2 separate regions of the Homo sapiens genome follow, and region 2 is linked to region 1. Evidence: fine-mapped expression QTL. A gene starts in region 1. The other region holds a variant in brackets. All regions are shown on one strand. Distances are from middle to middle. Region 1 holds the start of CALHM2 (calcium homeostasis modulator family member 2). Region 2 overlaps SLK (STE20 like kinase).

Region 1 (2,907 bases):
GTGATTCTGCACTAAGTGAACCCTCTTTTTTTCTGTCTCCTACTGACCTTGCCGTGTCCATCCACGGGTGTCCCGAAGAACCTCCTCTTCCGCAGCCGTGACCCCTCTCCTATCCAGCAGCCTCCCAGCAGCTCCGCTCCACCCCGCCTGCCAGCAACAGGAAGCCCTGGTGAGACCAAAGGCTCAGCGGTGCCACCAGCTCATCCGGAGATTATTCTGCCTTGGTCTGGGCTGTAGCGACGCTGGCAACCTGCCGGGAAGTGGCCATGGCCTCGGGCAACAGCGAAGTTTAGCCCAACTCCCTTCCCAGCCTCCACCCACACAAGCCTGAGAGACAGGCCAGGGTGTGGCCCCATGTCCTCCCCCTCTGGAGGGTGAAAAACAAAACTCCCCAGGCCAGAGGAAGCCAGGGAGTGGAGGGATGGGGTGAGCGCCAAACACAGACCTAGCCCTGTTCCCTTCCATGCTTCATGGAGGGATCACCCCTTCTAGATCACCCCTTCTGTCCCTGCCAAGGAAGGCTGCCAGATGGGCTCAGGCAGAGCCATGTGGCCATGCAGACTCCAAGAAAAGGAGAAGCTGGAGGAGGAGGACCAGGAGGAACAACAGGAGGAGGAGGAGGAGGAGGAGGAGGAGGAGGAGTCTGATTCTTCCCCCACTTCACAGCCTGGAGCTTCCAGCCTAACTTCCTGGGAAAGGCAGTTTGCATCACTGCTGGGGAAGAATGGGTTAAAGTCAGCCCCCTTTGCCCCATCCTTTTCCCTTCTTGGCTTCTAGGCTCCTAATTAGCTCCCTGTGGAGGCCCTGGGTTCATAAACTGGCTCAAAGTGGGGTACAAGATACCTGCACAGGGTGGGTGGTGAGCAGAGGATGGGCCAGGCCATCTTCTGAGACCACTGCCCCCAGGCCAAGGATGGGTCACATCCAGACCCCCAGTGGGACCTCCTCCAACATCAGTGACGACAGGAGACTGGCGGCTCGGGGAGGGGCAGGACTGCTCCCTGTTCAACCGGGTGGAGGGAACCTCAGCTAGGGGCCTCTCTCCCTCTGGGCAGCGTGGGACAGGCCCCACCATGCTCCGCTGACACCTGGCACACCCCAGGGAGGGCCCCTTCCTTACCTGGGGCCAGCTGTGGGCACTTGTGGCCATGGCCTCCTCGGGGCCGGACTCTCCAAGTGGCCTCCAGGAGGGCGGTGCAGGGCAGCGGCGGCCTCCGCCGTTCCCTCCCGCTTTTCTTCTGCACGGGGGCCTGGGGCTGGTGGCGGCTTCAGACTAATCTAACTCCAGAAAAGAGAGAAGAAAACAGTGGGATGGAGTCTGCGCGCCAGTGAGTGGAAAAACAGCCTCCCGGCGCCACCAGGCAGAGGAGGGCGGGCCCCGAGGGCGGCGCGAGAGGAGAGGAGCCGAGAGGAAGTTGAGATGCCTGTTCTGCAGCTGCTGCGCGTCCCACCGACCCGCTGCTCGCCGTCCCTGGGCCGTGCTGGCCCTCCGCCCTCGGCCCAGACCCGGACCGGGCCATGCTCCACACCAATGGGACCAGTCGGGAGGGCCACGTGGGGATGTGGAGGCATTGGGGAGATCTGACCCAGACCTGCCCCCCATGACAGTTTCAAGAGCACCCCACGTACTTGACCCCCGCTGGGCAGAAGCTACCAAAGGAGACCCCGCGAGGGTCAAGGGAGGGTGTCGTCAGGCCCGCGCTGAGCCCTGCAGGATGCTCAGGGCCAGGGCCCCACCCTCTACTGGCCCTTCTCCCTCAGAGTTGTCCATTGACTGGACAAACCATCCCCAATGCTGACTCTTTGACCTATAGTCAGCTAACTCCCCGGGACCTGCTTCGGATCCCTGGAGGGCTGAGGATTGAATTCAGGAGCCTAGGGATTCTCCGGGTCCTGCAGGCAGAGCTCCAACTGGTGGGTGAAAGTTACAAGGAGGCAGGTTTCTGAAGGAAGCCCTGTGTAATAATCAGAGCTGCCCAGCCTGTATCTAAAAGTGGTCAAGATGCGGGCTGAAGCGTCACGGGTCAGGAATGCTGCACAGGAGAGTCTACGGACAGGCTAGATGACCCTTAGCATGGAGGGAGAGGACCCCCGACATCTGTCAGCTCTGCAGTGCTCGTGGTTCCGTCATGGTGGAGCTGCCGAGTGACCCGCTGGCCTCCCTGAGCTGGGCTTGACCATATGTACGAAGGAAAGAAAAGGTACCAAGTTCTGCTTGTTTATTTGTTTGTTTCAGATCCCAGCATGTGCTAAACACAGTCCCAGATCCTTCCCTAAAAGTTATCTTCCTCTATCCTTACCACAATCCTGAAAATCAGGTCTTTTTTAAAAAATAATTTTTTCATTTTAAAAAAATTATAAATCTTCTCTTTATTCTTCTTCTTCTTCTTATTATTATTATTACTTTACAGAGACAGAGTCTTGCTATGTTGCCCAGGCTGGTCTCCAACTCCCAGGCTCAAGTGATCCTCCCTCCTTGGCCTCCCAAGTGCTGGGATTACAGGCATGAGCCACTCCGCCTGGCCAAGCAGGTCTTCTAATATCCATTTTATAGACAGACACACTGAGGCTTAGAGTGGCTGGGTGACTGGCCACAAGTCCTGCAGTGCTGGTATTTGAACTCAGGTGTGCCTGACCCAAAGCTTTGCTCTTCATCACATTTGTACCTCCTGATACCTCCGGGCCTTCTCTTCCCACTGGAAGTGCTGCCACCCACCAACATACACCTTGTTTTTTGCTCATCCTAATCCTCCCTGACTTCAGGGCCCATACCAACTCCTACCTCCTGGAAGAGCCCTCCCAGCCCACCTTGGCCCACAAAGATCTGAGCAACTCCTCCCAAATAATTAAGAGGAGGGAAACTGGACCCCAGAAGTGGGAATAGAGGGAAGGATGGATAAAAAAGGA
Region 2 (2,913 bases), 530 kb after region 1:
TGGTTAAATGTTCTTACACACTGGACAATTAGGCTCTTCTTCTTTTGGTGGGGGGAAGAATACCTCAGCCTTGAGATGAAATCAACCAGATTGATAGAATCAGTCCCAGTGATTATTTTTTCTTTTTATTCCTTGTTTTTTAGATTCCTTTTGTATTTATCTTACATATTTTTTGTTTGTTTGTTTGTTTGCCTTTGATTGACTAACACCTCTGTGGGACTGAAATCATCTCTGTTTTCTGTGCTGGTCTTTCAGTTTCCAGCTAAAAATTTTATTAAAATATATTCTTCACTATGAAATACTATATAATGTTAGAAAATGTAAAAATATAGAAAGAAAATAAATGAAGATTTAAAAATTATTCCTGTACTCACCACCCAGGGAATACCTTCTGTTCAAACAAGAGTAATATGAGGGTGTAATTTTTTTAGAATATGAAACCAGTATGGAACTTTCAGACAACTTATGTTTCCCAGTATCCCTCATTTGTTTATGTAATGTGGCCAAGCTCTACTGATGATTCATGAAAATAAAAACAGTGATTTTAGGTGATCATGACTGATATTTGAAATCTTTTTATCAACAGAAGTTATATTTTTAAATTAAGATTGGGATTTGTTATTCCATTTTTGTTTTTAACATTTGTTTAGTTCAGTAGTGCCCATCCTCTTTGGCACCAGGGACTGGTTTCATGGAAGACAACTTTTCCACAGACTGGATGCGGGGATGTTTTGGGGATAATTCAAGTGTGTTATGTTTATTGTATACTTTGTTTGTATTATTACTACATTGTAATATATAATGAAATAATTACACAACTCACCATAATATAGAATTAGTGGGAGCTCTGAGCTTGTTTTCCTGCAACTAAATGTTCCCATCTTGGGCTGATGGGAGACAGTGACAGATCATCAGGCGTTAGATTCTCATAAGGAGCACACAACCTAGATCCCTCACATACGCAGTTCACAATAGGGTTCACAGTTCACGATAGAGTTCATGCTCCTCTGAGAAGCTAATGCTGCTGCTCATCTGACAGGAGACAGAGCTCAGGTGGTATTGTGAGCAATGGGGAGTGGCTCTGAATACAGATGAAGCTTTGCTTACTTGCCTGCTGCTCATCTCCTGCTATGCGGCCTGGTTCCTAACAGGCCGTGGACTGGTACTGGTTTGTGGCCCTGTGGTTGGGGAACCCCGGGTTTAGTTATTTCATTAAGCCTTTATGTGAAGAGTTTTTTTTTTTTTTTTTTTTTT[T/TC]TCCCTGAGACAGAGTCTTGGTCTGTTGCCCAGGCTGGAGTGCAATGGCACGATCTCGGCTCACTGCAACCTCTATCTCCTGGGTTCAAGCAATTCTGCTGCCTCAGGCTCCCAAGTAGTTGGGATTACAGGCATCCGCCACCATGCCTGGTTAATTTTGTATTTTTAGTAGGAATGGGGTTTCACCATGTTGGCCAGGCTGGTCTTGAACTCCTGACCTTGTGATCCGCCCGCCTTGGCCTCCCAAAGTGCTGGGATTACAGGCATGAGCCACCACGCCTGGCCTATGTGAAGAGTTTTTATGCCTTTAGATATTAGGTAGATAAGCTCTTTTTTAAAAATACTTTATGTCCCAGTTATATTAGTGTAGAGAATAGTGTCACACACTTGTAAATATTTATTTCAGTTTTGTTTTTTTAAAGTTTTTTAGAACTAGATCCTGATGAGTAATCATGTTATTTTCAAGCAATAATTTGAGGCACTATTCTTTTAATGTAACTTTTATTATTTATATTAAACCAAATGATATCATTGTTGGTATAATCAATATATGACAGAATTTGTTACTGTGAGGAATTTTAGAGGTTATCTAGTGTGAGTTATTTTTCTTCCTTCATGCCAGCCCATTCACAAGTATAAAAGATACATCTTTAAAATCTCCAGGACATCAGTCAATTAATTTTAGTGGCTGCGTCATTTTTCATTGTAGAACTGTACTGCATGATTTAAGCAGGTTCCTGTTAAGTGACATTTAGGCTGATTCACTTTTTCACTATTGCAAATGGTGCTTTGATGAGTATTTTTGTATGTGCATGAATTTTATTTTATGAAATTATCTCCTTCTGATAAATTCTTAAAAGTGAGATTTAGACATTTATTTATTGAAACATTTATTAACTTTAAAAAATTTAGTATCTGTTTTTAATGTAATAAGTGGAGTTTTGCTGAAGTGATGTTAATATACATCATAGTGAAATGTCTTATAAAAACAACCTAGTTAGCATTTTAAGATCTGATTCCTAACGTTAAAAATGATCCTAGTATCTACTACATATTTGGAAACCTTTCATTTATAATAAATGATGGTGAGAAGTTAACCAAAGAAGGAAAACGAGAAAGTTAAAGTACTAAGAACAAGGAAAAATGACCAAATGATAGAAATATGGGGAGACTGGAAAGGGTATAGAGGAGGCAAAACTTTGCCTCCACCCTCTTAGCGTCCCTGCTGGGCCCGAGAATTAAACTGACACAAGATAGAGTAGAGGAGAAAAGCATAGACATTTAATATAAGTTTTATGTGACATGGGAGCCCTCAAAAGAAAATGAAGTCATAGAGAAATGGCAAAACCTACATGCTTTTGTGTTAGGTTGAAAGAAGAGAGGCGATTGTAGAAAAGTAGATATGTTATATGGGGAGGCTAAAGGAAGATGTTTAATTTAACAAGGTCTGTTTGTACACAATTCTCTTGACTGTGACTCCCTATCAAAGAATGTTTCTTTTCTCCTGGGATAGAGAAGACGTCTTTTACAGGAACATTTTCATCTCCTAGTTTCAGGAAGAAAAGGTGGAAGATTAGAATGCCCTTCTTGCATCTGCTATTTTTCAAGTGCCTTTCAAACTCAAAGTGATCCTTATGTCAGAGTGGCATGTTTGAAGTG

Evidence for each region. PIP is the estimated chance that this variant, and not a neighbour inherited with it, causes the effect. A credible set is the group of variants that fine-mapping cannot tell apart.
Region 2: its variant is the best candidate, but not a certain one, in a credible set for the expression of CALHM2 in CD8 T cells (CEDAR, PIP 0.58).

Annotation. Positions count from the first base shown.
Region 1 is chr10:103,451,036-103,453,942 of GRCh38, forward strand. It overlaps CALHM2 (calcium homeostasis modulator family member 2), which reads right to left and starts at 1,335. Exons shown (of 4, transcript NM_015916.5): 1 at 1,121-1,335; 2 at 48-250. CALHM1 (calcium homeostasis modulator 1) reads right to left here. Exons shown (of 2, transcript NM_001001412.4): 2 at 2,205-2,907. It overlaps LOC124902494 (a long non-coding RNA gene), which reads left to right and starts at 1,408. Exons shown (of 2, transcript XR_007062275.1): 1 at 1,408-2,201. RefSeq lists enhancers at 8-377, 326-946, 947-1,568 and a silencer at 1,407-1,736.
Region 2 is chr10:103,985,437-103,988,349 of GRCh38, forward strand. The region is part of intron 1 of SLK (STE20 like kinase); the gene reads left to right. Among named protein-coding and RNA genes, the nearest start is that of SLK, 20 kb to the left of the region's middle. The variant T/TC (reference allele first, on the strand shown) is at 1,255.